Regions from separate parts of the Homo sapiens genome. Here all the other regions are linked to region 2. The links come from fine-mapping of genetic effects on gene expression. A gene starts in region 2. Each other region holds a variant in brackets. All regions are shown on one strand. Distances are between the middles of the regions.

Region 1 (7,896 bases), 220 kb after region 2:
AAACCTCCCACTTAAGACAACGTTGACTTTTCCCCTGCATGACAATGATGCCTGCTCGATAAATATAAAGCAGATTTATTATTTTTTTAAATCCATTTCCTAAGCAACACACTTGGGCTGTCATTGATTTTTTTGTTTATGTCTCTCTTTTTCTTTTTTCTTTTTTTTTGAGATGGAGTCTTGCTCTGTCACACAGGCTGGAGTGCAGTGGTGTGATCTCTGCTCACTGCGAACTCCACCTCCCTGGTTCACGCCATTTCCTGCCTCAGCCTCCTCAGCAGCTGGGACTACAGGTGTCCACCACCATGCCCGGCTAATTTTTTGTATTTTTAGTAGAGACAGGGTTTCACTGTGTTAGCGAGGATGGTCTCGATCTCCTGACCTTGTGATCTGCCCGCCTCAGCCTCCCAAAGTGCTGAGATTACAGGCGTGAGCCACCACGCCCAGCCTGTTTATGTCTCTAAATAAGCTCTTTCTCCTTCTTTCTTTCTCTGCTCTGCTGTTAACTATAAGAGAGTTCAAAAATTCTAGCACTGTGGAAACATTTTTCCAGGAACTTAATATAATGACTGTCTCTTCAGAAGTGAATGCTGAGGTTGATAACTGCAGCATTAGGTTACCAGTCAAAAAGGTGAGCACTCGTTAGGAGGGGTAGGAGAGATGAGCTAGTTTTAGGCATTTTCAGGCAGAGTACACGTGGGATATGCATCTGTCTAGTCCATTTAGGCTGTTATAACAAAATACTGTGACTCATTGGCATATGAATTAGATAAATTATTTCTCACAGTTCTGGAACCTGGGAAGTCCAAGATTTAGGTGCTGCAGAGTCAGTGTCTGGCGAGCGCCCATTTCCTGGTTCATAGAATAGTGCCTTCTCGCTGTATCCTATCATGGTGGAAAGAGTGAGGGAGCTCTCTCAGGTCTTTTATAAGGGCACTAATCCTATTTATGAGGACTCCACCCTCATGACCTGATCACCTTCCAAGGGCCAAAACTGTTAATACCATCACTTTGGGGATTATGATTTCAACACATGATTTAAGGTGGCCATAAAGACTCTGGCTACTGTATTATTTATTCTTTCTCTTTTTGAGAATAATGAAAACAGATATCTGTGTAGCAGTTTATGGTATATGTAGGGTGTACATATTATTTAAACCCCACAATCCCCACCACAACTTGTTTTAATGGGTGATATGTATATCTTGATTTTACCTCCAAGGAAAACTGTGAAACTGTGACTTCAAGAAATAAAGTAATATTTTGAAAATACCATTTGAGTAGTAAGAATAAAGCAGAATCTTGAACTCAAAGCTTTTGATTACAAAGCTCAGTTTCTTTTCATCAAATTATGCTGTAACCCTTTTAGAGCAATGCTTTGCTATATGTAATGATGCCACATACCTTTTGGAAATTTCTATCTGGAATTACATTCGAGGTATTTGTTTAGTTCATTAATAGTAAAATATATAGAATGAGCAAAATTAAATGTTTTATTTGTTTTAACCATATTTTTCTCACATCTGTAGCTTTTGCCACAATTTCATCTTAAAGCTAGGGAGGCTTTAAAGTGTAAAGACAGATATGTGCTGTATTTTTTTGTTTGTGTATATGGATATTATATACTATAAAATAGGTTAAATGGTCTTTTAATTTTTTGATACATAGTGTAAATTTTTGTATCTTTTAAAGTTTTGCACTTTGGAAAACTCAATGTATAAAAAACTTCTTTTTGTTAATTAGCAATAAAAAGAAATTCTGTAATTATACTCTCAGGTTAAAATATAAGAAGCAAAGAAATATAGTATGCAGTCCAATATGTAGCCACTACTCACATATGCCTACTTAAATATAAAATGATTAAAATCAAATAAAATGTCAAACTCAATTCTTCACTCTCACTAGCCATATCTCAAATGCTCAGTAGCCACATGTGACTAGTGGCTACCATGTTGAACAGCACAGATATAGAACATTTCATTCAAAGTGGAAAATTCTATCAAAAAGCACTAGGATATCATCTCAGCATTATGATTTAGAGAGGACCTGAGAGTCAAATTGGCCCTCCACCAGTTTTTTTAAACAAAATATTATGGGATCACAGCTATATCCATTTGTTTACAAGTAGTTTATGGCCATCCTGTCACCAGAAATAGCAGATTTTGAATAGTTGCAAGAGAGATCTTATGGCTCATGAACACTAAAATATTTATTATTTGGTCCTTTACAGAACACAATTTGCCAAACTCTGACCTAGAACTTCTTTTATAAGCAATTAGTGGTATGAATTTCTGGCTAAAATATTATTTTTTATGAGTATTTATAATATTTTGACTTCCTAATTCTCCTCTTCCTTCTCCTTCCTTCCTTCTCTATTTTCTGTTATTTCAATCATATATTTCTTTACTTGAGGAATTTCTTGGTAACTTGATAATGAATAGAAGAACTTGGACTTACATTCATAAATACTTTTATCGTTTTTAGCCACCAAGACATTACAGTAAAAATACAGTAATGTTTCTAATAAATGTCAGAGAACATCATTATTCTGACATGTGATACTGGGATATGGAAAGGAAGCAATCATTCTGTTTTATGGACTTGAATAAAGAGGAAAGTCCTCCAGGAATGCAGTCTTATACATACTTCCTCTTTTTTTTTTTTCAAGAGAAAGTTCATATTTCTAGTATTAGTGGATATGACTACTTTTCACTTTAGGTTAATTTATTTTAAAAAACTCTCTAAAGATAGGATTAAAAACTGTTAAGTTTTCTCATTCAATTCTTATCTAAAAACATTCCAAGACCCTCCTCAGCTCTTTGGCATAATAAAATGAATAGGAAAGAATTTTCTTTGATCTCATATGGAACAATAATGTCTACATAACATACAATTTACCTGCAAAAAAAATCCCTTGCTGCTTGAGGATAAATGCAGTTAAAAGTTGAATTCAAGTAAAACCCTTAGCTATGTAGTAATTGCCAATGAAATTTTTCTGTTTATTAGCAGTGATAGCCCCCTGATAAGAAAATCTATTAGGCATTTTTCACACGTGGCAAAGCAAATATTCCTTTGACTCTGGATGGATAAAACAATTTACCTAACATTTGGGTAGGTCCTTTACTGTGCATCATTTCATTCATTTTGCCCAGTATTTAAGAAATAACTGAGACATGGTAACATGAGTTATCTACCCCATCTAATACACTGTAATAGTCATATACACCCACCTGGCATTTACACAGCGTTATATGGGAAAGAATTCATGGCACAGTGTATCCTAGCTCTGCTTCTTAGTAGCTGTGTAGTTTCCCACAAGTTACTTAATTTTTCTGTTTTTCATATTTCTCATCTATAAAACAGGGATTAAAAAGTATGCATATGTCATGGGATCGTTTGAGAATGGAATGAATTAAATGCTTGTGAAATCCTTTCAGCAGTGCCCCAGTAAGCGCTGCCTAAATATTAGAGAGAGCCGTGTTATTCCTGGTGGAAAAATAACATGCATCAGAACCAGTCAGTTTTGTCCTTAAATCCTAGTTCTTCACTTCTTGTCTTGTTAAATTCATTGAGTCTCATCTTTTTCATCTGTAAAATGAATGTAATACCTAGTCTCAGTAGTTGTAGTAAGGTGCAGTGAGAAAATAATGTAGCATGCCTGGCATATAATAAAATGCTAATAAGTGGCAGTTTATATTAACATAATTGTGTAAATAGGAAGACTACAAATTAGCTGACTTGTTTAGTTAGTCAAGCCAGCCAACATATATACAATTTTAAGCTCATTTCCCCAAATATCCTCTGAGACAAGCCTTGTTAAAATTGTTGAACAAATGTCTAACCAGTGAACTTTGTGCTTGCCTTTCAAGAAAGGCGTACTCTTTGCCTTTGCCAATACACGACTTCCACTCCTATGGAGTTAAGCTGAGAAACATGACTTCATAGACCATGAGAATTGCATGCAGGCTGAAATTATGGAGAACAAGCTCCTCATTCACAGATGAGGTCAGTGAGATTCACAAAGGTTAAACTATCCCCCCAGAGTTGCACAGCTATTTGGCCAAATTTCTTCCAGGAAGCTGGACTGACCCCAGCCCATACTGTTTCTTCCATTACATTGCATTTAGTATTTATATATGCTCATTTTGGATACTTGTTTATATTACTTCAGGGATGTTCTCTCTAGCATAGGCATATAAATTTTCCCCAAGTCCTATGATTCTTGAAAAGCAGAATCTTGGTTGTTTTTTTTTTTTTTTTTAGTCCCTGTTAAGCAGATGCATTCGTGTTATGAACAAATTGATGAATATTTATTTAACCAGTGAAATTGTTATGTGTTTCATATAGACTGAAAATTCTAGTGCGTGAGGA[G/A]GAAGTGGAGCAAGATGGTCTAACAGAAGCCTCCTGTGATCTTCCCCTCCCCATGCAGGAACACCAAATTGAGGAACTATCCACAAAACAAAACAAAACAAAAACATTTCATAACATTCAAAAGTCAGGTGAGTGATCTCAGTAAGAAGCACTGGAGGGGGCAGGAAAGACAGTTTTGAACCACCTACAACACCCCTCCCCTACTCCCTGGCAGCAGCCACATGGTGCAGAGAGAATCTGCGCTCCTGATGAGGAGACAGTGTGGTGACTATGGGACCTTCATTAGAACTCAGTGCTGCTCTGTCACAGCAGCAAACGACATGGGGCAGAGCTTGGCTGACACCAATGGAGAGAGCATTTATACCAGCCCTAACCAGAGGCAAATTGTCCTTGCCTGCTGTGAAAACCTGAGTCTAACTAGCCCCAACACTGGTGGCAAAAGCACTGTGGGGTCCTAAATAAACCTGAAAGACAGTCTAGGCCACAAGGACTGTAGTTTCTAGACAAGTCCTGGTGCTGTCCTGGGCTCGGAACTAGTGGACTTGGGGCATATGATCTATTGAGATACTAGCCATGGGGGCCAAGGGTGTGTTTGCATCACCCCTCCTCCAACCCCAGGCAGTACAACTCACAGTTTCGGTTCCGGGAGAGATTCCTTCCCTCTGCTTGAGGATAGAGAGGGGAAGAGTAAAGAGGACTTTGTCTTACAACTTGGATACCAGCTCAGCCACAGTAGAATAGTGAGAGGTGCCACACAGCCCTCGCTTGCTCTCAGCGCCTCCACAGCCTTGGCACTCACTCTGGCCGCACTTGAGGAGCCCTTCAGCCCGCCACTGCACTGTGGGAGCCCCTTTCTGGGCTGGCCAAGGCCGGAGCCGGCTCCCTCAGCTTGCCGGGAGGTGTGAAGGGAGAGGAGCGGGCGGGAACCGGGGCTGCTTGCCGGCCAGCGCGAGTTCTGGGTGGGTGTGGGCTCGGCGGGCCCCACACTCTGAGCGGCCGGCCGGCTCTGCCGGCCCTGGGCAATGAGGGGCTTAGCACCCGGGCCAGCGGCTGCGGAGGGTGTGCTGGGTCCCCAAGCAGTGCCGGCCCACCGGCGCTGCACTCGATTTCTCGCTGGGCCTTAGCTGCCTCCCCGAGGGGCAGGGCTCCGGACCTGCAGCCCGCCATGCCTGAGCCTCTCCCCCACTCCGTGGGCTCCTGTGTGGCTGGAGCCTCCCCGACAAGCGCCGCCCCCTGCTCCACGGGGCCCAGTCCCAACGACCACCCAAGGGCTGAGGAGTGCGGGCACATGGCGCGGGACTGGCAGGCAGCTCCACCTGCGGCCCCGGTGCGGGATCCACTGGGTGAAGCTAGCTGGGCTCCTGATTCTAGTGGGGACTTGGAGAACCTTTCTGTCTAGCTAAGGGATTGTAAATACACCAATCGACACTCTGTATCTAGCTCAAGGTTTGTAAACACACCAATCAGCACCTGTGTCTAGTTCAGGGTTTGTGAATGCACCAATTGATACTCTGTATCTAGCTACTCTGGTGGGGACTTGGAGAACCTTTGTGTCCACACTCTGTATCTAGCTAATCTAGTGGGGAGGTGGAGAACCTTTGCATCTAGTTCAAGGATTATAAACACACCAATCAGTACCCTTTCAAAACAGACCACTCCGCTCTCTGTAAAATGGACCAATCAGCAGGATGTGGGTGAGGCCAGATAAGAGAATAAAAGCAGGCTGCCCGAGCCAGCAGTGGCAACCCGCTGGGGTCCCCTTCCACACTGTGAAAGCTTTGTTCTTTCACTGTTTGCAATAAATCTTGCTACTGCTCACTCTTTGGGTCCACACTGCCTTTATGAGCTGTAACACTCACCATGAAGGTCTGCAGCTTCACTCCTGAAGCCAGCGAGACCACGAACCCACTGGGAGGAACGAACAACTCCAGATGCACCACCTTAAGAGCTGTAACATTCACGGCGAAGGTCTGCAGCTTCGCTCCTGAGCCAGCAAGACCAGGAACCCACCAGAAGGAAGAAACTCCGAACACATCCGAACATCAGAAGGAACAAACTCCGGACACGCCGCCTTTAAGAACTGTAACACTCACCGCGAGGGTCCGCAGCTTCATTCTTGAAGTCAGTGAGACCAAGAACCCACCAATTCCGGACACAATAGGGCACCAGACAGATTCCTAAGGCCTCTATTCCAGGCCCTAGCTACTGGACAACATTTCTAAACACACTGTGGGTAAGAAAGGAAACTGCTGCCTTGAAGGGAAGGAGCTAGTCCTGGCAGAGTTAATCAACTGCTGACTAAAAAGCCCTTGGGCCCTGAATAATCAGCAGGGGTACTCAGGTTCTACTTGCCGTGGGCCTTGGGTGAGACTCAGAGGTATACTGGCTTCAGGTGAGACCTGCCACATTCCCAGCTGTGGTGGCTATGGAGAGAGACTCCCTTTTGCTTGAGGAAAGAAGAGGGAAGAGAAAAGGGAACATTGTCTTGCAGCTTGGGTACCAGCATGGCCACAGTGGGGTAGAGCACCAAGCAGACTCCTGAGGTCCCTGATTCTAGGCTTTGGATCCTGGATGGCATTTCTGGACATCCTCTGGGCCAGGAGGGAGTCCACTGCCTTGAAGAGCAAAACTCAGAACTGGCAACATTGACCATGAGCTTACTGAAGAGCCCTTGAGCCTTGAGTGTAGATCAGCAGTGTCCAGGCAGTACCTGCTGTGGGCCTGGGATGCTGGTGGTTACTGGAAGGAGACTCCTCTGCTTGAGGAAATGGGAGGGAGGAGTGAGGAAGACTTTGTGTTGCAGCTTGGGTGCCAGCTTAGCCACAGTAGAATAAAGCACCAGGCAGATTCCTAAGGCTTCTGACTCCAGGCCCTGGTTCCCAGATGCATCTCTGGATGCACCTGGGGCCAACGGGAACTCATTGCCCTGAAAGGAAGGACGCAAGTCTGGCTGGATTTGCCACTTGCTGATTGTAGAGCTCTTGGGATGCAAGGAAACATAGGTGGTAGGCAGGCAGTGGTCACTGCAGGCCTTGGGAGAAACCAGTGCTGTGTTGGCTTCAAGTCTGAGCCAGTGAAGTTCCAGTGGTGATGGCCATGGGCATGATTGTGTCACCCATCCCCCAGTTCCAGGCTGCTCAGCACATGGAGAGAGACTGTTTGGGGGAAAATAAGGGAAGAGAACAAGAGTCTCTGCCTGGTAATTCAGGGAATTCTCCTGGATCTTAGCCAAGACCACCAAAGCAGTACTTCTGTGCGTCTGCAAGAACCACAGTGTTACTGGGCTTGGGTTACCCCCTAAAGCAGATAATGGCTGCAGTTACCAAAGACTTAGATCACAACATGCAAGTCTTTTAAAATACTTACAAAGCCTTCCCAAAAAGGACAGGTACACACGAGCCCAGACCATGAAGACTAAAATAAATATCTAACTGTTCAGTGTCCAGACACTGATGAACATCCACAAGCATCATGACCATCCAGGAAAACATGATCTCACCAGACAAACTAAATAAGTCACCAGTG
Region 2 (7,896 bases):
TGGGGAAAGCACTGGTGACTTAAAAAGAAAAAAAGGACAGCCATTTGACTGGCAAGTGTCAGTCATTCTGCTATTTGAAATTTGAGGCCAGGCGTGGTGGCTCACCTCGGGAGGCGGAGGCGGGCAGATCACAAGGTCAGGAGATCGAGACCATCCTGGCCAACATGGTGAAACTCCGTCTCTACTAAAAATACAAAAATTAGCTCGGTGTGGTGGCACGCACCTGTAATCCCAGCTACTGGGTAGGCTGAGGAAGGAGAATGGCTTGAACCTGGGAGGTGGAGACTGCAGTGAGCCGAGATCGTGTCACTGCACTCCAACCTGGTGACAGCGTGAGACACTGTCTCAAAAAAAAAAAAAAAAAAAGGAATTTGAGACAAAGTTTCAGAGACACTCTGCTATAGAAAGGTCTGAGAATATATTGTTTATCAAATGAAAGAAAAAGTACTTGCAATGACACTAAAGTTTATGCAGAGTTGAAAGAAGTAATAAAATTATAAATGACCTTGATTGGCAGGATGGTGTTCCTCATCCATGTCTTGCTCCATCTGTCCAATTAGTATGGGTTACTTGACTAACCAAATTCATTCATCTGTAAGTCCTTTGAACTATATACATTAAAGCTCATGCAAACCATTCCCTCAGAAGACCTTGCACCTTTTATGTATGTGAAAATCTGAAATCACACCCATTTCCCTAAGCTTCTGAGAACATTTGTATACAACAACCATCAAAAGCATATTTCCAATTATTCTTTTAGGTCCTTTTCAATTAATTAGGGGACTATGCCAATCTCAGGAAATCCTTGTGGAAAAAGAAGAAACACCATTAGAACAACACACGGAGTAACCAGTTTTGAGACTAATGCCCAAAAAATTAATTGGGAGAATTTTTTAGTAATTGAACCTGCATAGCTCTCTCTGCTGCTGAGGATTAGCACAAAGGGGCAATTTCTTAACATTACCAGGTGAACAGTAAGATCAAAGATGCTAGGCTTTGAGCTCGTGCCCATCTCCTCTGTGAGTACACAGGCAAGCACAGAAGAATTATTTTACAAAAAGCAGCATATATTATAAGCATTTTCATAAATACCTCAAATCCAACAGAGGATCTTTGTCTATTAACCAATCATTTAAAATAGCTATTGTCCTCCAAAACGCAGCCCAGTAAATATTTTTAAAATTAATATCCAGTAATATTTATACTCTTAATTTCTGAATCTGGATAAGGAAGATAACAAAACTTAAAATAACATTTTTCCCAGAGTGTTTATCAACTCTCTTACCATCAAATGTTAAATAAACTCTTGCTTGGGGCTGGGAAGATCCTTTCACACAGATAGAACAAATAAATACTCCAACCAACACGCAAATTGTCCGGAATGCCATTTCTTCAGATATGCAAGTTAATATCCAAGGGAAAATACCTTTAAGAGAGAGACAACATGTTTGTTATATCTCATTTCACATTTTAGGAGTAGGAAAAAACAGCAATCTAGACAAAACACCCTATTCACAAAAGAACCATCTGAACTTTTACAGTAATGCAAACAGTAGGAGGTGCTGTGTCTTTGCTTCTCAGATGTGAAAATGTGGATTTGATTCATTTGTGTCTGGAAGTCTTTGCAACAAGAGAAACTTTCATCTTCCAGCAAATTGATGCTACCATCAAAACAGAACAAAGCAGTGAAGAAAAACACTGATACCCAAAGGAAAGCCCAATATTTTAACGGATCTTCTCTCTAGAAATCCATTACATTAAAAAGACTTGAATAGAATTGAGCTAAAAGAATATTACTGGATGAGAACTCTTTCCCCCCACTAACGTAACAGCAGCAGCAAAATCTCACATGAGCATTCATGTGTACCTACTCACTTCAATAGTCATTAGCTCTTTTGGAGTAATTGTCTCTGGAAGTGGTGTTTCCTTACATAAATCTATGTGTGCTCAATCCTGGATCACTGAAGTCACTGGAATCAGTTATCTGCCATTTTATCCAGATGACCAACAGGCAGTTGTTAAATGATGCAGTTGAAGTAACCATGGACTAGTGCCAAATTCAAACCAATGACCTAGTGGTGAGCAATCCAGTGAGCCATGTATCCACCAATGCATATTTTAAATAAATCAACCAGAATGTGGGCTGTCAAAATTCCCAAAGATAAATCAAAGAGACAGGTGTCACTGCTTCAAACTATAGATATAAAATTGGTACATGCTATTAACTAATATCTGAATCCCAAGGAAGACCAGATAATGTGTTACCATAAACCTACAGGAGCTCTAGTGGCTACATCATGTAAAATAAACTCAGGACCATTAAAGAAACACAATCATTTTGCTTCTACCATAATTACACAATAAAGTGACCCAAGAGTCCAGTAAAGAAATTTATTTTTACAGGTTACAACAATGCTGATCTTCATTATTTGGCTTTTCAAATTAAAATTTCATAGTCAAAATTATTAAATTCTTTGTAAGAACCACTAACAACTGAAAAAGACAGCTTCATTAATACAGAATAAAAAGAATTAAATGGAATATGCAATTTTAAACAAAAATTGTAAGTAGATTTCCTAGGTGGTGCATATGTTATGAGAGTTAGAAATGAAATTGTACGCTTCTTTTACCACACAGATGGAGGAAACTCTAGAGATGTTTGTGTTGGTAATTTTCAAAAGAAACAGTTTCTTCCTGCTTCCACAACCTCTTCACCCTGTCATCCCTAAATTAACTTAGAAAGAAACTGATTTTATGGGTGACTTTCCCTCAGTAATTTACCCCTTGGTTCTGTTGACTTCATAGTTAAAGCCAAAAGAAAAAAACTATTAATATGCCTAACCTTTGTTATGTTTACTGAGCAAGTTGATATTATTTACACATTTTTTTTACATATTGGTATCTTACCTTATATGTTTCTCCCAAAAGTACATATACAACCAATTGCAAAGAATACTGGTGATACAATGGCAGGTGAAACGAAGATAGTCTACAGGGCAATTTGATTTACATCCCACCTAGTGATGAGGAGTGAAAGACTGAAAGCCAAGTGTCTTAAATACACCCCCGCCTCCCCAACAGTATCTTACAACTTCTTCCCTTTAACTCAGACACAGACGTTCCTCTTGGTGTTTTCACTTCTGCTGATCGCAAACTAACAACACATTAAGAAAAGAATTCTCTTATCTCCTCTGGAGCAATTTTGCCTTTGAAGGCACTGTAATACTCAACTTGAAACTCTCCGCAGGTGTCACCGCCTAAAGAAACAACTCGAGCAGGGCTCTCAGCAAGGGGAAAGCTTCCCTGACAAACCGCGTGTGTTCTTAAGAAAATGTCCAGGCTTGAGCATACCAATGTATGAAAAATCAATATACAGGCCAAAAAAGTTATACTTTGCTAAATCTGTAATGCGGAAAATGACCAATTTAGCTTACCGAGGTTGAAAGAAATCAGCACGGAAAAGTCATCAGTTTGCTACCGGGGTTGGATGCGCTTGTGTCTCCAGTCCTTTTCCCAGACGACCTTATTTTCTAGCACGTCGCAAAGGTGAAATTCTTTCTTCCCGGTCCTCTGAGTTTCTTTGTAAAGGAATCTCAGCGCTGCAGTGCCGCGGCACCCGGAGCTCTTCTCCGCGTCGCTCAATCAAGCACCTCGGAGTGAATGGAAAGTGGCCGGAGGCCGGGGGCGAGCGCTCTTGGTGTCCGATTACAGCGCCGCGGCGCGCGGCTCCGGCTGCCCCGGCGCGCCGCCCTGCAGGCTCGCATCACCACCGCGCAGCCCCGGCCGCATCTCCGCCAGCCGCGAGGCCCCACCCCGAGCGCGCCCGCGAGAGCCTGGCAGGGAGCCGCGGGGGCGGACCGGGCGGGGCCGACCCTTAGAGCTCGCGGCTGGCCAGACGCAAGAATGCGCGGCCGCAGGCTGGAGCCCTAGCTCCGCAACCCTGCTCCTTTCGCAGTCCGCGGCGGAGTGAGCAACTTGCTGGGTGCGCTCCACGGTTTTTGTTGCCGGCGGCTCTCGAAGACTTACACAGGCTTTGCCTGGCCGTAAATATCAAAGTGCAAAGCAGTTGTGGTTTTTTATTTTTGCCAGGGAAGGATCACTGCAGCCTTTTAAGGCAAAGAGATGCGTTTTTAAAAGGACGTGAGTTTTGTCCTTATTCTGCTGCGTTTTTTTTTTGTTTTTTGTTTTTTGTTTTTTGTTTTGTTTTTGGAGAGGGAATCTCACTCTGTCGCCAGGCTGGAGTGCAGTGCAGTGGTGTGATCATGGCTCACTGCAACCTCCGCCTCCCGGGTTCAAGCGATTCTCCTGCCTCAGCCTCCTGAATAGCTGGGACTACAGGCTCCCACCACCACGCCCAGCTAATTTTTGTATTTTTAGTAGAGACAGGGCCAGGATGGTCTGGATCTCTTGACCTAATGGTCCGCCCGCCTCAGCCGCCCAAAGTGCCGAGAGCCACCGCGCCGGGCCTCTGTTGCGTGTTTTCTAAAACAGGTCAAGATAAACGACAATCTTGTTGCACAAGTGTATCCTTTTAATGGGTATTGTTTCCTATTGAGTTTCCTTAATGCCCTGAAAGCAGTAATTCTGTTGACCCCTCCACGTTGACTCATATCCAGTACGTTGTCCCCAACCATACTCCCAAACATAATTACACGAAGAAATTATTTGACAATTCTATGTGGAGAGGCTGTTCTGAGTTATGCCAACAGATTGCCATAACCACACATCTACAGAAATACATCAGAGGTATTTTTCCAGCATTACTTTCAGGTACACTCGTTAAACTCTGGAACTGACTTTGATGTTTAAGTGAAAATTACTTCTCCGGACCACAATAAACTAGATGTTTAAACATCGGGAGAAATGAGCTTTGATCCCCATAAAACAAGCAGGCACTTGCTTAAAATCACTGTGGGGCACAGCCCAGCAGATGTCACTCTACAGAAGGAACGTGGAGTGTAATATCTCCACCTTATACCTGACAATTCACATAATGAAACAATCATTAAATTCTTATAAACTGTATCATAGAAAACCCCTCTGGGGGTGCAAAATCATTGTTCAGTGGGAAAGTTGAATGAAATCTCAGGTAGGAGGAAGAGGTGAGTGAGACACATCTTTCATGTGTCTGGGGCCCACCTCTTGTGTTCAGTAAACATACACGTGTCTCAGACTCACGCTGCATAGTCAAGGAACGAAGGATCAAGTCAAATAATGCAAATTTATGAGTTCAAAAATACTATTCCAGGGCTAATATTATCTCCAAACGTCAAAAAATTAATATAGTAACAACAGTTAAAATTATTTTTTGTGATGATGCGTGAGAAGATCCTTGACATAAATTTGTAATAAGGAATTTAACCCCCCAAAAACTGACAATATTAAAATCCAGATGTCAATGTGAATAAGCACTGTGCGTGCTTCTCTGAAATACTTCTGAAACTGAGTAAGATCCAGGTTATATACTCTCCACTATTATCCTCCTTCTGATATCTCATTCGGCATTTATATATTAAGCAGGGAGAAGAATAAATCATTAGAAAGATGAGTGTGTGGATTAAATTAATTTAGAAATGTGGAGCTGTTAGAAATTGATCAGCAAATTCACGTAAGATGGAATTCGTTTATACATTTTAAGTTTGAGAAAACCACGATAAAGAGTTGCAAGATGAAATGCATCTCAAACGGTGTATTTACAAAGGAGCTTAATTCCAAACTCAATTTACAAACACCAATGAATTAGCTCAATCTGTTACACATTCAGGGGTTTGGAGGCCTTGACAAATAGCTTAGATTTAATCACAGCCCATGAAATTTGTGCCGAAATTCCCTCAATATTGCTCAAATAAACCTCTTTTCAATGTGCTCCTGGGATTTAATGGTATTTGCTTAGCTCTGAGACGTTTACAGTTGGCCACACCTCAAAATGAATCATAAAAATACTGATAGGCTTTAGCCAAGATAGATTCAAGCGCAAGGACACAGTGCTCATGCTTGCCAGAGACTTAGGCCACAGAGTGGAATTTTAACAGTGGCACTAGAAGCCCCTAAGATTAATCTCTGCCCACATTTCCCCACACTGCTTAAAACACCTTGACAAAACAAGACTTGCCTAAGAAACATTTCTGGGCACTACCACTTTTTTAAGACTTCAGCTTTGACTGTCCTTACAAGTGGAAAACAACAGCTAATTGAGAACGCTGTTTTCGGTAAGGGGGACACTAAATGGATCTACAGGAGTAGTGGCACAACTAAATTTAGAGAGCACTAATTACAATGTTTGCACCCAGCAAAACGTTTCAGACGAGCGGCCAAACTAAAATACTTAGGATAACTTTTATTAAGACGTTTTAGAAATGGTGCAGTATCTTACACACTGAAGTGTCTCTGCCTGCCAAGGTGTAGTGGGCATATTTTTAATATTTTATGTTTTTGATGGTCCTGAGGAATGCTATTTAACTTAAAACTCTAGCACCGATGTTGAGTTACATACTTTTCTCCAGGAGTTTCTGCAGCTATACATTATCTTATTTCAAATTTAAAGAAAACAGATTTTTCCCTATTATACAGATGAGTCATGTAAATAAACTTTACCCTAACCAGAGAATATTAATCATTCAGAGGTTAAAAATTGTCTTATTATTTAGTCATAAAAACTGATATTTGTAATAGAAAATAGATTGTGTATTTGCGAGGTACTTTGCTTATTATCTGCATAGCATTCTTTAATGAAGTTACAATTTTCAATGAGAGAACGTTGAAGGTTTGCCCAAAGTCAAATGGGTAGTAAATATCAGAATAGGAAGAGAAACTCAAGCGTGATTGCCGTAATGTCTCAGGTTTTTCAATAAGTTTCAATACTTCCTCTTACCTTTTTTGCTTAACATTTTTCTCCTCTTTTCTACTTCCCTCTCTTTCTCCTTCACTCAACTTCCATATGCCATCCTTTTAAGTTTCCTGAACTGTATCTTTGGAAAGTCTCAACTTCCAATGGTTACTTACTTTATTTACATCAGCCTTACGTCTCCTTGGGTTACATTAGCAGCTCTGAGACCAAGCCGGTCAAACAGGTCTGGTCTAGAAATCTGTGTGTGAAACTGCTACCTGCACAGCAAATAGGCTTTAATATTTCCTCTATCAAATCATTTCTAATTTTTCAATAAGATGAGTGTATCTCTATTTTCATTCTTAATCTATTGCTAATCTGTATTGCTGACTGTTTTTTCTCTGTTGATATGTACCACTCTATGCTTCTCAAATTGTAGGGTTCTTGACATTAAACAAAATAAACTGGCAACAGTGGTTTGCTCTGGAGAGGAAAATTGGCTAGAAAGGTTTCATGGTTCACTCTGTTTTACATTTATAATTTTAAACGAGGTGAGTGTATAAGCTATTACAAAGTTCAAAGTTTAAGTCCTCAGTATTTCCTTAAACACCTTTAAACATATCAAGTATGTTAAGCGCAATATTTCGCAACTCAACCAAAATAAAAGCATATTGCCTCTAATGTTTATATATTACAATATTTCATGTAAAAGTAGAATAGTAAAGAATTTCAGTAGTAAGAATCCCTTAGTGAATTTACTTCCTTAGTACAAAAATGTCATGTGTGCATGACAAAGGTTGTAATAGAGTTATTATGATCATTCACATTTTCATCACAAGGACAAAATGTAAACTTTCTATTTGTTTTGCCTTCTTGGAATATTTCATGTGAAGCCTCAGTGAGGACAGAGTATATGTATTTGAGATTATATACAACTGCAGTTGCAGAGAATCCCACAGTTAATGTTTGCTAGTGGAGTATATGCACACCCATCCACAGTCACGTCTTGAGGAAAGCCAGCAGCTTTTATGAATCATATTGGATCTGAAGCTCTCTGTCTCTACACCTGG
Region 3 (7,896 bases), 80 kb before region 2:
CATTCGGTTCTAATATTACTCTAGTCCCACACACAAAGGAATTAAAATTGAGCAAATTTGAGCAATCTACCCAAGATCACACAGTAAAGACTAAAAGAGGCAAGATTTCAGGATTCAAAGCAAAGCCAGTCCTTAATCTGTGAACTCAATCAGATGACCTCTTGCTTTTCTAATCAGACTGACAACTTCGACAGTTACTAGTTGGGTTTCTTTCATGTTCTTGCTCTGGACATGGGTCTGCATAGTATCAAATGTAGTATAAGAAATGCCTCAGCTTCCCAAATTTTCTTTGCCAGTCGGGGACGAGTAGATACCATACTCTAAACAACTCGAGAACTATCAACATCTCAGTGATGCTCTTCTCACTAAAGCATTAAAAAAGGTGTGAGAGGCAGCATGAAAATGGTATCAGACATAGCTTCATCAAGGGCACAGACACAGCTTCATGTAGAAGACAGAAGGTTCCCCTTTTCTTTGCTTTTTGACAGGCATGATGGGATAAATGGAAGCAAAATGCCAAATGGATTAAAGAAGGAATGAGGAAACAACTATACGCAGGGAACCCAGCTAAAGAATGACAGCAGTGCTGGGCGCGGTGGCTCACGCCTGTAATCCCAGCACTTTGGGAGGCTGAGACAGGTGGATCACCTGAGGTCAGGAGTTTGAGACAAGCCTGGCCAACATGGTGAAACCCCATCTCTACCAAAAATACAAAAATTAGCCGGGCATGGTGGCAGGCATCTGTAATCCCAGCTACTCGGGAGGCTGAGGCAGGAGAATTGCTTGAACCTGTGAGGCGGAGATTGCAGAGAGCAGAGATCATGCCACTGCATTCCAAGCTGAGCAACAGAGGGAGACTCCATCTCAAAAACAAACAAACAAACAAACAAACAAACAAACAAAAACAGACAGACAGCAGTGAACACAGAATGTATCTCCCACGCATTGCATCAGAGGGAAGATTTGCAAATGCACAGGTGTCTTGAAACAATGATTCTCGCCCTGGTTTGCCCCAGACAGCCCCAGATTGTGCCCATTTCCCCAGCATAATTATCACTAGTGCCCTCTTTCATTCTCAAAAGATTCATGTTTTGGAAGTTAAATTATATGGCTGCTCTACTTTTAAGCAACCTCTTAATTACCTTGAATGGTTTTCTATTAGTTTTAGTAAAAATTTCAAAATTTTAACCCTTTCCCATTTAGAACAAAAAGTGGAGCATGCTGTCAGTGCTCCTTTAATTTTTCATAAACGCACTGTTTGGGGCTGAAGCAAGTCTGACTGATTTTCACTATGAAATAAAATATAAAACTGTTCTTGCAGTTATTTCTACACAGAACTAGCATCAGAATCATCTGAATCTTCAGAATCATCTATTTCACAAACGTCGGATTAATCAAATCAATCTTTGGCCAACAACTGTTCAAGAAGATGTTAACACATAGGAATGCTAAGTTTTCTGGGATTTGACATTTTCAGGAATCGAGAATTACCGTATTTTGTGAATTGAAATACCACTACTAAAAACAGAATACTATAAATAGAATAAGTCTTTTGTTTCCTAAGTCGATATACTAGAGTGATGCGAAAATAATAATGAAAGCGAGATATTTTGTGGCAAAGTTACCTTGGGGTAAATGCTGCAGCTGCAAGGATTATTGGGGCAAACAGGAAAGGGTTAACATGGCCCTCCAGGCCTCCTATGATCTAGTTCCAGATTACCTTACCACAAATCTTAATCATCACTGTTGGCCTATTCTTTGTTCTTGCTCTGCTGGCCTTCTTTTTAAAACTTCAAACTTGCCTTGCTCCTTTTTGGCCTCAGGACCTTTGTACATGTTGTTCCTCTTGCTTATAAAATTCTTCCTGCCTTTTTCTAATTCCTACTTATAATGTGACCAATAGTTTTGATGTAATTTAAACAGGGCTGTCTCATAAAAGCTTTCTCGATCCTTTAGACAAAGTCAGGTCTCAGGTTCGCTGATAAATTTGCTCCTTTCCCTCCTTGGTTTTCTTTTCTCTTGAAGGCTGCCTGGAAGGTCATCTGAAATGGTCTACAATGTCCTGGATTGTGGGGTAGGGGACTACACTATGACTTGCTGAAACCTACCTTGTTTCTGTACAGTTTTCAAGTGGAAATTGACTCTAAACATGAAACACAGGTCTTTGTTCATTCACATTCTACCATTTTTTTGTTTGCTATATTGATTTTTATTATTTTTAATCATGGTGAATTAAAAATATGAGCATAAACCAATCAAATGGAAAAAATGCCATCAAATTTCAGAAAATCATGGTTTACATGAAATATTAATACTTTATCACTATTAAAAAGTAGGGTGTGTATGGCTGGGGAAGGCAAAAGGCTTGGCTTTGGAAATAGTAGACCAAGGTTAAATTTTTAGTTTCACCTTTTGCTGGTACAGGGTTTACCCCAACACCACCCTCCAGAGCACTCCCCTTAGGTCCTGCATCTACAATATAAAAAAAGAATGAGAATATTTTGGAACCAGAATAATCTCTAATGTTCTGTATAGCAACAAAATGTCTATAAAAATAATTCCTTTTTCACTGCTTACACATATTATCTATTGTTGTGGGATATCTGTAAAGCTAATGTAATCCTTCATATTACTATACATCTTGTAGGAAAAAGGGGTCTATGTAAAAACCAATCTTAGAAACATAGCCACAGTAATACAACTGTGTATTTTCTAGAAAAATGAAGCTAAACCAAAAGCAAGGCTATCTTGTTCCCCTACTATATTAGTCCATTTTCACACTGCTACAAAGATAGTACTTGGGACTGGGCAATTCATATACAAGAGGTTTAATTGTCTCACAGTTTCACATGGCTGTGGAGGCCTCAGGAAACTTACAATCATGGTGAATGGCAAAGGGAAAGCAAAGCTCCTCTTACATGGTGGCAAGAGAAAGAGAAAGAGCAAGAAAGTGCAACACTTAAAACCATCAGCTTTCCTGAGAACCCCCTCACTGAGAATAGCATGAGCAAAACCGCCCCCATGATCCAATTACCTCCCACCAGTTCTCTCCCTTGACA[C/T]GTGATGATTACAACTGAGATGAGATTTCAGTGGGGACACAGAGCCACACCTTATCACCTACAAAAAACATATTTTACTTGTGTTGTGTAATTCAATTAAATAGAGAATTCTAAACTCTGACTTCCCTTTCTCTAAGCTCACTTGGAAGACATGGCCAATCTTTTGTTCCTTGTATGGTAAGTACTGTCTGGATTCTATCTCAGGGTAGGAAGAATACACAATTAGGGAATATCTCAGATGTCATGAGAGACTGAACTGGCAGTAACTTACTTCTAAAAAGTAGAATAAAATCTGAACTTATCACTAATCTATATAAGGACAACACAGATGAGCTATCAGTATCAATGATATTCATACTTCTAGGAAGGCCTCAGTTTCAGAGTGTCCACTTGAGATATAAACAAGGCAGATAAACTTGTAGAGGAGGAAACACTTCATCTGACACCTGCTTTCTAGACCTCTTGGCACTTCTGAAAAAGCTTTACTTTGAGGCAAGGTGTTCAAGAACAGTGGTTCCAGGATGGTTAACAAAACAAAAGCAGATACCTGACAACAGACAGAGAAAAAAGTGGGCACAGAAGAGAAATGTGGTATCAGCTGGAGCTCAGGGTAAATAAGTGTACCTCTGCTAAATAAACTATTACACTGTCATTAAAAATTTTTTTTGTGTAAAAATGTTAAGATACGGAAAACATTTTCTCATGTGCTAAAGTCATAAAAGCAGGCTATATTCAATATGGAAACAAGTGTTAAAGGTCATTCACAAACAATAAGACTTGTAGGGATATATTTTAAAACATTTATAGCAAAGTCCTTGGATGGTGGGACAGAAATATAAAGACAGTCAATATTTCAGACCAATGTGTGTGCATTGGGGAAGGATGATGACCTGACATGGTATATCATGTCAGCAAAACCCCAGAACACCGAGAATCTAATAGACGCCATTCCCCAAGCACATCCCTTAAGTGACCACACTGGAACCACATATGGAAAGAGTCTTAAAGCAACATTTAACACTAGTCTTTCACAAAATTTATACTATTTGCTGGATTTGGATGCTTTCAATAAAACTCCCTTGACCATATTGTGGGCTTCCAGTGGGTACTTTTAGTCAGCACACTTAATTATAGCAAGAATAGGAGATCCTATGTGCTTAGTGAAGTCTCTTGTCCCTCTCACCCTCATAAAGTTCTGAACACAGCCCATAGCTCTCTATAACACAATGCTTGTGTTTATACATAACACAGCCCACAGCTCTCTATGACATACTGCTTGTGTTTATACATAACACAGCAGGCTGTATACAAAACAGAAATATTCTTTGAGACATATATTTATTCATTCATTCAATAGATGGTAAAAAGGCCAGGTGTGGTAGCTCATGCCTGTAATCCGAACATTATGGGAGGCAATAGCGGGTGAATCACTTGACCCCAGGAATTAGAGACTAGCCTGGGCAACATGGCAAGACCATGTCTCTACAAAAAATACAAAAATCTGCAGGCTTGGTGGCATGCACCTGTAGTCCCAGCTACTCAGGAGACTGAGGTAGGAGGATCACTTGAGCATGGGAGGTAGAAGCTGCAGCGAGCTGTGATTGCACCACTGCACTCCAGCCTAGGTGACAGAGCACCTGTCTCCAGGAAAAAAAAAAAAAAAAAAAAAAAAAGAGCGAGAGAGAGAGAGCGCGATGGTAAATGCCAGGAGCTAGGTAAAAATATGCAAAAATTTGGTCTCTCTTTCAAACAGGAGAGTCTAAAGTGGAGGTACACGAGCAACTGCAGTGTAAAAAGATGACTCCAAAAATTGAGGAGCATTAAAGAATGAAGAATTAAGTCTTCCTGGAAATAACAGAAAAATATTAGACAGAAGGAAGTACTTGATCTTGTTTCTCCATTCAATAAATATTAACTAAGCCACTCAATATTATACTAAAATCACAGTAATAAATGCACAAAGTATAGTAAAAGGGAGGGTAAGTGTTTAAGACAAGGGCTTTACATCATGGCTGTGGAAACAATCATGTAAACTTTGACCTGAAGGATAAAGTTGAGCTAATAAAGAAATAAGCATTTTCCAGGGAGTAGAAAAAGTTTGCGTAGAAACCCTCAGGTGGGAGATTCAAAGGATGATTAGAAGTCTCAGGGTTGATCAAGAAGCGGAATGGAGTGGGGTTTTCTCAGCAGAAACAAGGAGCCAACCAACACAGAAAGATCCAAATTTCTTGACTGTCAAACCATAGGGGTTGAATTTTTCCCAAGTCACTTCAGATGCCAATGAAACAAATCCGAGCAAGTACCCGCCATGATCACATACAAGTTTGCTAGAAAGATAATTCTGCTTAATGAAGAGTTCTTGAGAGCAAGATTGCTTCATGATACAATATTAAGTGAGTAAAGCAGAATAAAAATATTTTGTATTCTTAAACTATTGTGTGCCTGCATAGTAATAAATAAATGTAGAAAAAAGTCTTGACAAAAATGCAACTTATACATATTCTCATAATCCTGGGGGCTCATTTCAATGCCCTGTCAGTTAAAAGGACTGTAATTACCCTTTGATCAAGAATCAGGCTATGCAAACTTTCCTTGCAGACCACTGTAATTTACATATATTCTTATACAGGAGTCTAGCTGCACTGCACCTAATAAAATGCTGAACTAGGCAATGACAGAAACATCAGCATCTAACTGGAAAACAGCTATATGTTGGCAAAAAATCCCCATCTCTAGATTCCTTCAGAATGATGGAGGACCACCCACAGCTTTCAGTAAGACAAACTATTTGATATTTAAAAACTCAGCTCTCCCCACCAGCAAAAATTCTTGAACTATGCTTTCACTTGATGCATTCTTAAACTCATTTTCTTTTGAACACAGGAAAAATATTATAAACTATATACCATAAAACCTCAAATTTAAAGGCCCAGACTTTATGAACAAAGAGATGGGGAGATGTTTTCCTAAAAAGACAGCTACTTTATCTAAATATTATTTATTTCAATGTGACTCATTGTTTAGCCAAGTTACTACATTTGGCTTCAAAACAAAAAAACAAGTCTGCAGAACTGCAGAGGACAGTGAAGACATGTTCATTTAACTTTAAACACATTTGTCAGTCATTCTACGCAGAAGCTCCCTTTTCTCCTTTTTTCTTGTCTCTCTCCCTCTGACACTGTCTAAAATACAAGGTCAGTGACTCTGCAGTGCTCAGCGGCTGGAGCAGAGATTTAAACAGTCCTTGGGAGTGGGCTTCTACATAGTAATAGAGCCACCCTTTAATTCTTTTCAAGAGAAGCACAAAGGATGCAACCATGTTTCCTGCAGCTTTGAAAGCCCAAGACTTATCATATACACAATGGCTTTTCAATGTATATCCAAGACATTTCTCTTTCCTTTGTGCTAGACTGCGAAACCATTTGTTTCCAAATTTCACGTGATGGTATTTGGAGATGGCATCACTCAAGCTTTCAAAAGAGATCAGTGTTGCACTTTGCTGTTTTTGCTCTGGAAACATAATATTTATCATTCTTGCATGTACTTCAAGAAGAATAGCAGAATATGAGACTCAAAGTTTATTTATTTTACAAAATGCTGCTACCCCATTGAGACAAACATTAGCCATGACTTTCTTTTTAATTTTCAGTAAAATCTTTTGGTGGAAATAAGGCGCACTTAAAAGAGGAAATGAGAAACCATGAGAAATCCAGTTTGACCTAAGTATTAACAGCTCATGGTCACCTTTTTAATGCAGAGGGAAGCTTCACTTCACTGACTTACAGACATTTTCATTCCTGAATCTCAAAAAGCAACACATTTTACTAGGCAAAATGAGTTATAGATAGCTGGGGTGGTGTTATTTGAGGGACTGAACATTAAACAATTTAAGTAACTTTACAAGATTAAGTCAAACAAGCCACATTATGCCATACAATCAGAAGAGCAAATAAACAGGGTTCTAGTGCAGAATCTGTCTTTCTGTTTCTTTTCATCAGAGACATATAAACTGTATTCCCTAATTTTAAAACTCTGCAAGCTTTGTTACTTCATCGACAATGAATATGAAAAGAACAAAATTATATTTTCACATCCAGGTGTAAAATTAATTCAAGTTAGTACATTTCCAGTCCAAAAATCAATTTAGCCTAAAACATGAAATTAGAGGTTAGGAGGGGCGTGTGGGTGGGGGTGCAGATAAAGAGAAGTTGGTTAATGGATACAAACATAGAGTTAGATAGAAGTAATAAGTTCTAATGCTCTATAGAAGAGTAGGATGACTGTAGTTAACAACAATGTATTACATATTTCAAAGTAGCTAGAAGAGAGGACCTGAATCGTTTCCAACACATTCAAATGATAAGTACTCAAGATAATGGATATTCCAAATAACCTGACTCTATCATTACACATTCTATGCATGTGACAAAATATCACATGTACTCTATGTATTATCTATCAATTAAAGCACAAATTAAAAATTAAAATGAGACTCTTTTTCTTTGTGTTGTTTTTTTTAGCTTAATGCATTTTCCTGGAACAAAGTCTGGCTTTTGAAGACAAATCTATTCTAAAATCTTGGCACTGCATCTGACTAGCTGTGTGGCTTTAGGCAACTTACTTAAATTATTAGTGCCTAAGTGTTCCCACATGCATGAAGAAAAAAATACCTATCTCATGGGACCATTGTGCTAATTGAATGAGAAAGTAAGTGTGAAACACCTGGAGCATAATAGCTATCACTCACAACTGGTAGTCTAGCCATGCAAAGACAAGAGTTTCAATTTTAAACAGGATAATTGTACACTAGCTTTAGGGCATTACTCCAGAGTTATTT
Region 4 (7,896 bases), 23 kb after region 2:
TATATTACATAGGCATATGTATATGATTAGCTAATCTAATGCATCTGTACCCTAATACTGTGTATGTTATGTATATTACATAGGCATATGTATATTACATATAAATTACATATGTTATGTATATGTAATTACATACATAATTACATTATGTATATTACATATGTTATGTATATTACATATGTATATGTGTGTACCTATGTAATATACATATATTACACATATATATATCTCTGTATGACTTTTTTATTCCCGTTTGTATACCATATATATTTTTTAATCTTGACTTTTTCATTAAATTCAAACTATAGAGTGCTTATCATGTAAAAGATGCTTGGCACTTTACATATATTACCTAATTTCATTTTCACAATAATCCTGAGAAGTTTTCTTATGCCCAATTATACACCGTGAAACAATGTTAAGAAAAAGTTTCTGAAAGAGTGAACATTTCACTTCATATCCCACAGAGCGAGGATTCAAATTCAAGTCTGTCTTTCTCCACAATAGCTTGTATTGTTAACCATAATTTTCTCTGGCTTTTCACACTACTGTTCTTCAAAACTGCCATGCTTGTTCTCACTTTAGAGTCTTCAACCTAACGAGTCTATCTAGGAATGCTCTGCCTTCCATCCTGCCATGATTCACACCTTCTACAAATTGAGATCGCAGCTGACATATCAGTTCTTCAGAGAGTTGTTTCTTGTTCATTTTTTTATTCATCATCTATCTATATTACCTATTATCTATCTATCTATCTATCTATCTATCTATCTATCTTCTACTGTCCTTTCTCTCTACTAGAATGCAAATTTCATAAATGTGTTTCCTTTACCACTATAATATCCATTAGTCCAATACCTGGCATGGATTAGCTCTTGAAAAGTATGACTTGAATTAATTAATTGATTTACACAATTTACATACAGACTGTCCAGCATTTTCTACTTTGTTATCATCTTATCATAGGTGTCAACAATTTAAAAAAAAATAATTTTTTCAGTTATAGCATATTATTTAGTTCAGGGGATGCATTATAATTTATTTAATCTTGCTCTATTTCTAAATTTTTAAAATATTTGCTTTCAACTTTTTGTTACTCTACGTTAAAGTTTCTCAACTGTGCACTACTGACATGTTGGTCCAAAACGTTTTTGTTGTTGAAGGGGGGTGTGAGACTATTCTGTGCACTGTGGGTTGTATAGCAACATTTCTAGTCTTTTTTTTTTTTTTTCGAGACAGAGTCTCGCACTGTCGCCCAGGCTCGAGTGCAGTGGGCCGATCTCGGCTCACTGCAAGCTCCGCCTCCCGGGTTCACGCCATTCTCCTGCCTCAGCCTCCCGAGTAGCTGGGACTACAGGCACCCGCCACCACGCCAGGCTAATTTTTTTTTTTTTGTATTTTTAGTAGAGACGGGGTTTCACCGTGTTAGCCAGGATGGTCCCAATCTCCTGACCTCGTGATCCGCCCACCTCGGCCTCCCAAAGTGCTGGGATTACAGGCGTGAGCCGCCGCGCCCGGCCAACATTTCTAGTCTTTATGCACTAGCTGCTAGTAACTTCCCATCCCTGAGCTGTGAAAACAAAAAATGTCTCTAGATATGGCCAAATGTCCATTAGGGAACAAAATCACCCCCAGTTGGGGACCACATCTCTAAATTATGCTGCAATAAATACCTTTAGGTGTAAGGTTCTTTCCATATTTAAAGGTATTTCTAAGGGTTAAAATCTCAGACTCATTTTATAGATGGAAAATCAGAGGCTTAAAGAGTAAATTACTTTGCCTAAGGCTATACACTTGTGAGGTAGAAAAGTTGGAATTTTATCCTCAGTCAGTATGAAGTCAGGGCCTTGTGTTTCAGCACTATGTTTCAGGACCCCTAAATAAAGGTCCCATATACTATGGTGCCAGACAATAGTATCTCAATTCTTGATTCCCCCTTTACCCTATTTCCCCTCCTTTCTTTAAGGATTTCTTTGCTCCATCCTGCCTTCCAGTAACCTTTCATTTTTATCTCTCTTGGAGATTCATCTTTTCCCTGTCTCCTCATTTTACTCACCCCTCCCTTTGTTGTAGGTTTAGTACAAGCTGACCCTGAGCCAAGGATGTATGTGTAACCAATTTATTAAGGAAATTCCTCTAGGGCATGCAGGTTAGGGAGTTGGAAAAAGCAGAAGAAAGAAGGGAAGTAAGCCAAGCAATAGTGCAGGTGCAGAGGCATGCATCCTGTAGAGAAGAACTTTAGCCTGACTTTTCAGGGAGCTCTGGAGTGTGTGTCACACCTTAGAGTTGCCCCAACTAGAGGCAAGAGAGCTGTTTTCATAGCATCATACACTCTTGTGTCATTGTTATAGGATAGGAGAGAGAATATACACGAAACATTTAACATCCCTCCCTCCACACACAGAAATAACAAAAAAGGATAATAAGGGATTTGTGAAGAGCTCCCATATTGCTCACCACATACTTCTCAGTTATTGTGTTATCGCCACCATGAAATTTGCCATCTGCTGTTTTCTGTTGCTGTAACTGCTCTGCTAGGTCCCAGCTAATAAATAAGGAACACTGAAGCTGAATATAAATAATGGTTCTGGGAACCAAAGTTCTGAGACAGTCTCCTTATAGACCTCTTCGGTTTTTAACCCAAAAGGAAAAAAATGCAGGGTGCTCATGTGTGTGGAAATTCATTAACACTTTAAGAGATCTCTGGATCAAAAGTAACCTCTTAGGGAATGTGCATTTCAAGGCCCTGTCTTACCCCAAACTGGAATTTTTGGCCCGAGGAAAATAGCAAATTATCTCACTTAGGGACAGCTGGTGTCCTCACGGAGGTTTAAATTTAACTTAGCAGCTAGAAGCTAGTCATCTTTAGATTCAGAAATACGAATTCATTGCAATAAGGAGTTCACCAAGGGCAGGCCGAAAGGACAAAGCAAAGACAAGTACAGTCTTATTTCAGTGCCATAAAGGAATTGTCATATGA[G/C]CCTTGACACACAAATTCCACAACTGAAGATCATGCAACTATTGCCCAATAAATTTAAACAGAGTGATTGCACTTAGCCTTAATTGTCCAGTTTCTGTTTTTGAAAAAAAGGCAATGAGTAACACAATGTTTCATAACCAGGAAAGAAGTTTTTGAATTTCTTTATATCACAGATAGTGAACACAATCTAAAAATAAATATTAAATAATCAAAATCCCAATGTAAAATATATATCTATCTGTATATATTATCACATGGAGGGAAAATTTGCACCACTAATATAAATGCTATTTATTAGGCATTGCTTTTCTATAGATTTTCATCCACTCTTTCATTCTTCTGCTCTATTCCTTGGTCACCTTCCTTCCATCTCTTTTCTTTCCCCTTTTTTCCATCTTCAATTTAGTGTTTGTTTCTTAAGAAACAAGTTTACATATTTCTTAGTTCTCTGTCAACAGAACCTTTCTCACTTTTCAACTGCAAAAATCAAGGTATTTTTCTAAAGAATCCATCAAAATAGGAGTTCTAATGTCCACTGATTAAATAATAATTCTTCGCAAGGTGCTTCAAATGCATTGACATATTTGAGAAAGCTATTGCAGACAGATAGCAAATTTATTCCCCTCTTAATATGTTAGTACTAACAAACAACTCAAGTCAGTTTGTACAATCAGATTGCTATTTAGAAGTTTCAGTTCTAACTAAAAGGCTGTTTTTCATCTTCACCAAACACTGGCTAGTCAGCAACTCCTGCCAGCATTCTCATAGCTGCCCCAGACAGCCAGTTGCAGGAACTCTGGCTGAGTCATGTCTCTGCTCAGCTACTCAGTAATGAAATATCCCTAGGGACATTCCTAAGACATGTCAGAGATGTGTTTCTAGTCTCCACCTATTTCTTTGTCGTGCCCCAAGCTGTGCCCACATTAGTGGAATTTCCAGTGCATTGCCATGCTCAGTAGGCCAAAGAGAAAAGTCTGCAGAATTGCTACTTAATATTACTTAATAAATCAGTAACAGAAGCAATGAATGGAATGGAATGCAAAATTCTTGGCTCTTAGCCTTAGATAGAACCACTTCCTTCCTATGAGCAAATAGTGGTTCATAGGTTAGCTTGGGGAGGGCTACTTCAAAGGGATAGTGTCTAAGTAGTCAATTTTGCTTGAATAAATTATGGAAAATACAGTTTTCAAGAGGAGAGGCTATGCTACTTTTTTCCCTTTTGGAATACTGGGTATATCCTAGGTAATAGAGAGTCAGTGAACAAATCTTTGCTGATGCTAATAGTTAAACAAAATGATTCAAATAGTTACTGAGCAAACATTTGCTGATTAAATAACATAATGATTCATATATGAAATGCGTTAGTTAGGTTCTACATATACTGTATCATTTCCTTTCAACCAGTATTTTCTATTTGTCCCAGAATAGCCTCCAAAAGAAAATTGCTGCTGGCAATTTAAAAAGACAACCATCTAAAAAAAAGTAACAAGTTGACCGGGCGCCGTGGCTCACGCCTGTAATCCCAGCACTTTGAGAGGCCGAGGCGGGCAGATCACGAGGTCAGGAGATCGAGACCATCCTGGCTAACGCTGTGAAACCCTGTCTCTACTAAAAAAATATAAAAAATTAGCCAGAGCGAGACTCTGTCTCAAAAAAAAAAAAAAGTAACAGACGGTAGAGGCAGTCAAATGTAGAGAACGCAGAAGCAACTCTTCTTTTAGTCCCTATTTATTAATAACCCTTTCTGGACCAAAACAAAAGAACAGTAATGGACAAATTTTCTTGCAGATTCAAGAAAACTGCTTCATATCACTATTATCTAATTATCTTCATCAAGTTGCCACACTACTGTTCTAAAATGTCTCTTTGATCCAAGCACTCCATGTGCTCCCCACTGTCAATGTCCCAATGCTACAGAATCTGCTTCCTTCCAACCTTTTACCTGCTACCCACTGGGTTGATGCTCCTGGACTCATGACCAGATCTTATCTTCACATATGGCAAACATCGCTGTTGGATAAACACTTTCTGCAGAGATTTCCTTTTGAGACATGTATCTAGGTGGCCATGGGTTGCAAAAATTGGTGAAAAAGTTAAAATCTATTTGCTCTACTAACTGTGGTCAATTGCTGATGTAATAAATAACATAATGATTCATATATGAAATGTGTTAATTAGGTTCTACAATACTGTATCATATCCTTTGAACGAATATTCTTTTTTAGTCCCAGGATAGCCTCCAAAAGAAAATTGCTGCTGGCAATTTGAAATAACAGGCATCTTAGAAAAATAACAAGTTAATAAATATAATAAAGAGATGGTAGAGGCAGTCAATGTAGAGAATGCAGAAGCAACTCTCCTTTTAGTCCGTATTTTATTAATAGTCCCTTCTGGACCAAAACAAAAGAACAGTAATGGACAAATTTGCTTGCAGATTCAAGAAAAGTTAATTAATCCTTAATCCTTAATTTAGTTCATGCTTCAAAATACCGACAATGTTTCTTTTCAAAAAAAAAAAACCAATCTGAACAATCTGAGTATTCCACTTCCCTATTTAAATCTTGCACAGTTCCCTATTTTACAGAGGATAAAAGGTAAACTTACCATGGTAAAATGGCTTTCCAATGGGACCTTAACCAGTCCCTTCCTCTGCCTGTCTCATTATGGGATCCAGTCTCGATGGGCTCTAAATCACTCATTGTTCTCAACACGTGGCTCCCTCTCAAGCATCTATGTCTTTGCATTTGCTCTTCCCTTTACCTAGTATAACTTTCTCTCACGCACTGCCACTTTTTCTCAGTTGCAGGATTTGTCTGAATGGGGACTATGAAGATATTTTTATTTTACTTGTTTTGTATAGTCCACTGAACTCTGAGCTCTTTGAAGACAAAAATCATAATTTATTTATTTTGTTAACATTGAATGTAAAGTGTAAGCAAAAGTCATTGAGGACCCTAAGCAAATTGGCATCAAGGAGGAAACAGAATGGACACTTAAGAAAGAGCATTACAGGACCTTACAACTGCTAGTTAAGTATTGGCTAGAGTATTAAAGAGAAACATGTCCTGCTACCCCAGCTTACCAAATGGGCATCACTTTTTCAGTCTGCTGAGATGCGATGACAGTCGCAGACCCACCTGGGGATATCCTGGCTATTAATTATACTTAGTGCAGAGTTCAAAAAGGACTCAGAACCATCAGGCGATTAAAGGATGTAGATTATGGATATAATTTTAGAAGAAAACAAAGCCACTTGAGTCATTCTCCTAATAAAGCAAATTCTGTTAGAAGGGGTAACACATTAAGCAGCATGTTGGTATGTACTTATGTACGTATGTATGTATGTATGTATGTATTTATTTGAGATGGAGTCTCGCTCTGTCACCCAGGCTGGAGTGCAGTGGCGCAATCTCGGCTCACTGCAAGCTCCGCCTCCCGGGTTCATGCCATTCTCCTGCCTCAGCCTCACGAGCAGCTGGGACTACAGGCGCCCGCCACCACGCCCGGCTAATTTTTTGTATTTTTAGTAGAGACGGGGTTTCACCGTGTTAGCCAGGATGGTCTCCATCTCCTGACCTCATGATCCTCCCACCTTGGCCTCCTAAAGTGCTGGGATTACAGGCATGAGCCACTGCGCCCGGCCTATTTATTATTTCTTTAACAAATGTTTATTTATGACGTTCTCTGTGTAAAATATTGTAGTAGGTAGAGGTGACAACAGATTGATATAATCTTTTATGGAGCTTACATTCTGAAGACAAAGAAAAACAATAAATAACAAACATGTAATAACATAAATTACAAATAATAGGTTGATTATTTAATTATAATCTGAGACTTGGGGTGAAAAAAGCATAGAATGGAGAAATATAATCTAAACTTTGGGGTCAGGCAAATTCCTATGGGGAAATGATATTTATGATATGAGGATGGAAGGTGTTACTAAGGTGAAGAGGGGATGGTAGAGAATTCCCGGGGTTTAGGGTATAACCTGTGCAAATGCCCCATGGTTGCATGGTGTAGAATACATTCAAGGAAGAATTTTGAAAACGTTGAATTCATTAGATTTTCTGGCTACAGAATTATAGCTTGGATATGAATAATGCTGATGTGAGGAGTCCGGTTAGCATGTGAGAAGTGAAAATATTTGAAATACATTGGCATAAAATTAACAGGACTTGATGCTAGATTGGATATCAAATTTAAATGAGAACTAGGGAGATGTTGAAGCCCCTCTCTGCCAATGGAACACAGGAGAGGGCCGTGAGAATATCATACTTTCAGTTCTAGAGACACTAAATGTGATGTAGCTATGGGATGTCTGGGTAGAGCTGTCAAATGGGCAGGTGGTTATCAGTGTGGAGCTCAGATGACAGTTATAGTACTGAGGCTTCTATTTTAGAGTCTTCCATATATATAGGGTAAATGAAATCATTGGAGAAGACAATAAAGCCCAGGTAAAATATGTGGAGTGGTAAGGGAAGAAGGCCTAGGAGAGAGCCCTGAGGAATTCCGACATTTAAAAGTTTAATAAAGCAGAAGTGTCAGCTAGTCAGACTGAAAGTGAGTGTGAAGTCATTTGCCAGCTGGAACAGTTAGCAAGCTAGAGATTTTAAAAGACAAAGTACTTTTGCAAAGAGAAAATTATCCAAGCAAAAGGATTGGATAATTTCTTGGCAATAAAAGTTTTCGAAGGTCCAACAAGTCTTTTTTTCACATTCAAGTAATGTAAGTAAAGTTTAGAAAAAATTATTAGTAGATATCTAATAGTTGTAAAATTGAGATTGGTTCAAATGCAACAAAATCTAATATGGATGGATATTGTATGATTTTTTTTTTTCTGACTAGAAGCAAAAACATTTGCCTAGTGAATTGTTCATATGAATAATATTGTATTATTGGAAAAGTAATGTAAA

Alleles and levels. Positions count from the first base shown, and alleles are read on the strand shown. Sizes are in standard deviations (SD) of each study's normalised expression. Not every link is listed here.
With allele C in place of T in region 3, the expression in nucleus accumbens of the gene that starts at base 3,658 in region 2 is lower (moderate effect, 0.55 SD a copy in GTEx).

The links.
Region 1: its variant is fine-mapped to the expression of SEMA3C in whole blood (TOPMed, PIP above 0.99).
Region 3: its variant is fine-mapped to the expression of SEMA3C in nucleus accumbens (GTEx, PIP above 0.99). The same link has a PIP of 0.9 or more in caudate and putamen.
Region 4: its variant is fine-mapped to the expression of SEMA3C in blood mononuclear cells (TOPMed, PIP above 0.99). The same link has a PIP of 0.9 or more in T cells, monocytes, monocytes after Pam3CSK4, monocytes after R848 and whole blood.

The regions. Positions count from the first base shown.
Region 1 is chr7:81,136,470-81,144,365 of GRCh38, forward strand. No RefSeq gene overlaps it. Among named protein-coding and RNA genes, the nearest start is that of SEMA3C, 220 kb to the left of the region's middle. The variant G/A (reference allele first, on the strand shown) is at 4,372.
Region 2 is chr7:80,915,394-80,923,289 of GRCh38, forward strand. It overlaps SEMA3C (semaphorin 3C), which reads right to left and starts at 3,658. Exons shown (of 18, transcript NM_006379.5): 1 at 3,435-3,658; 2 at 1,286-1,426. The coding sequence starts at 1,388. RefSeq lists an enhancer at 3,178-3,247 and a silencer at 3,795-3,924.
Region 3 is chr7:80,835,812-80,843,707 of GRCh38, forward strand. All of the region lies in intron 2 of SEMA3C (semaphorin 3C), which reads right to left. Among named protein-coding and RNA genes, the nearest start is that of SEMA3C, 79 kb to the right of the region's middle. The variant C/T (reference allele first, on the strand shown) is at 3,060.
Region 4 is chr7:80,938,575-80,946,470 of GRCh38, forward strand. No RefSeq gene overlaps it. Among named protein-coding and RNA genes, the nearest start is that of SEMA3C, 23 kb to the left of the region's middle. The variant G/C (reference allele first, on the strand shown) is at 2,981.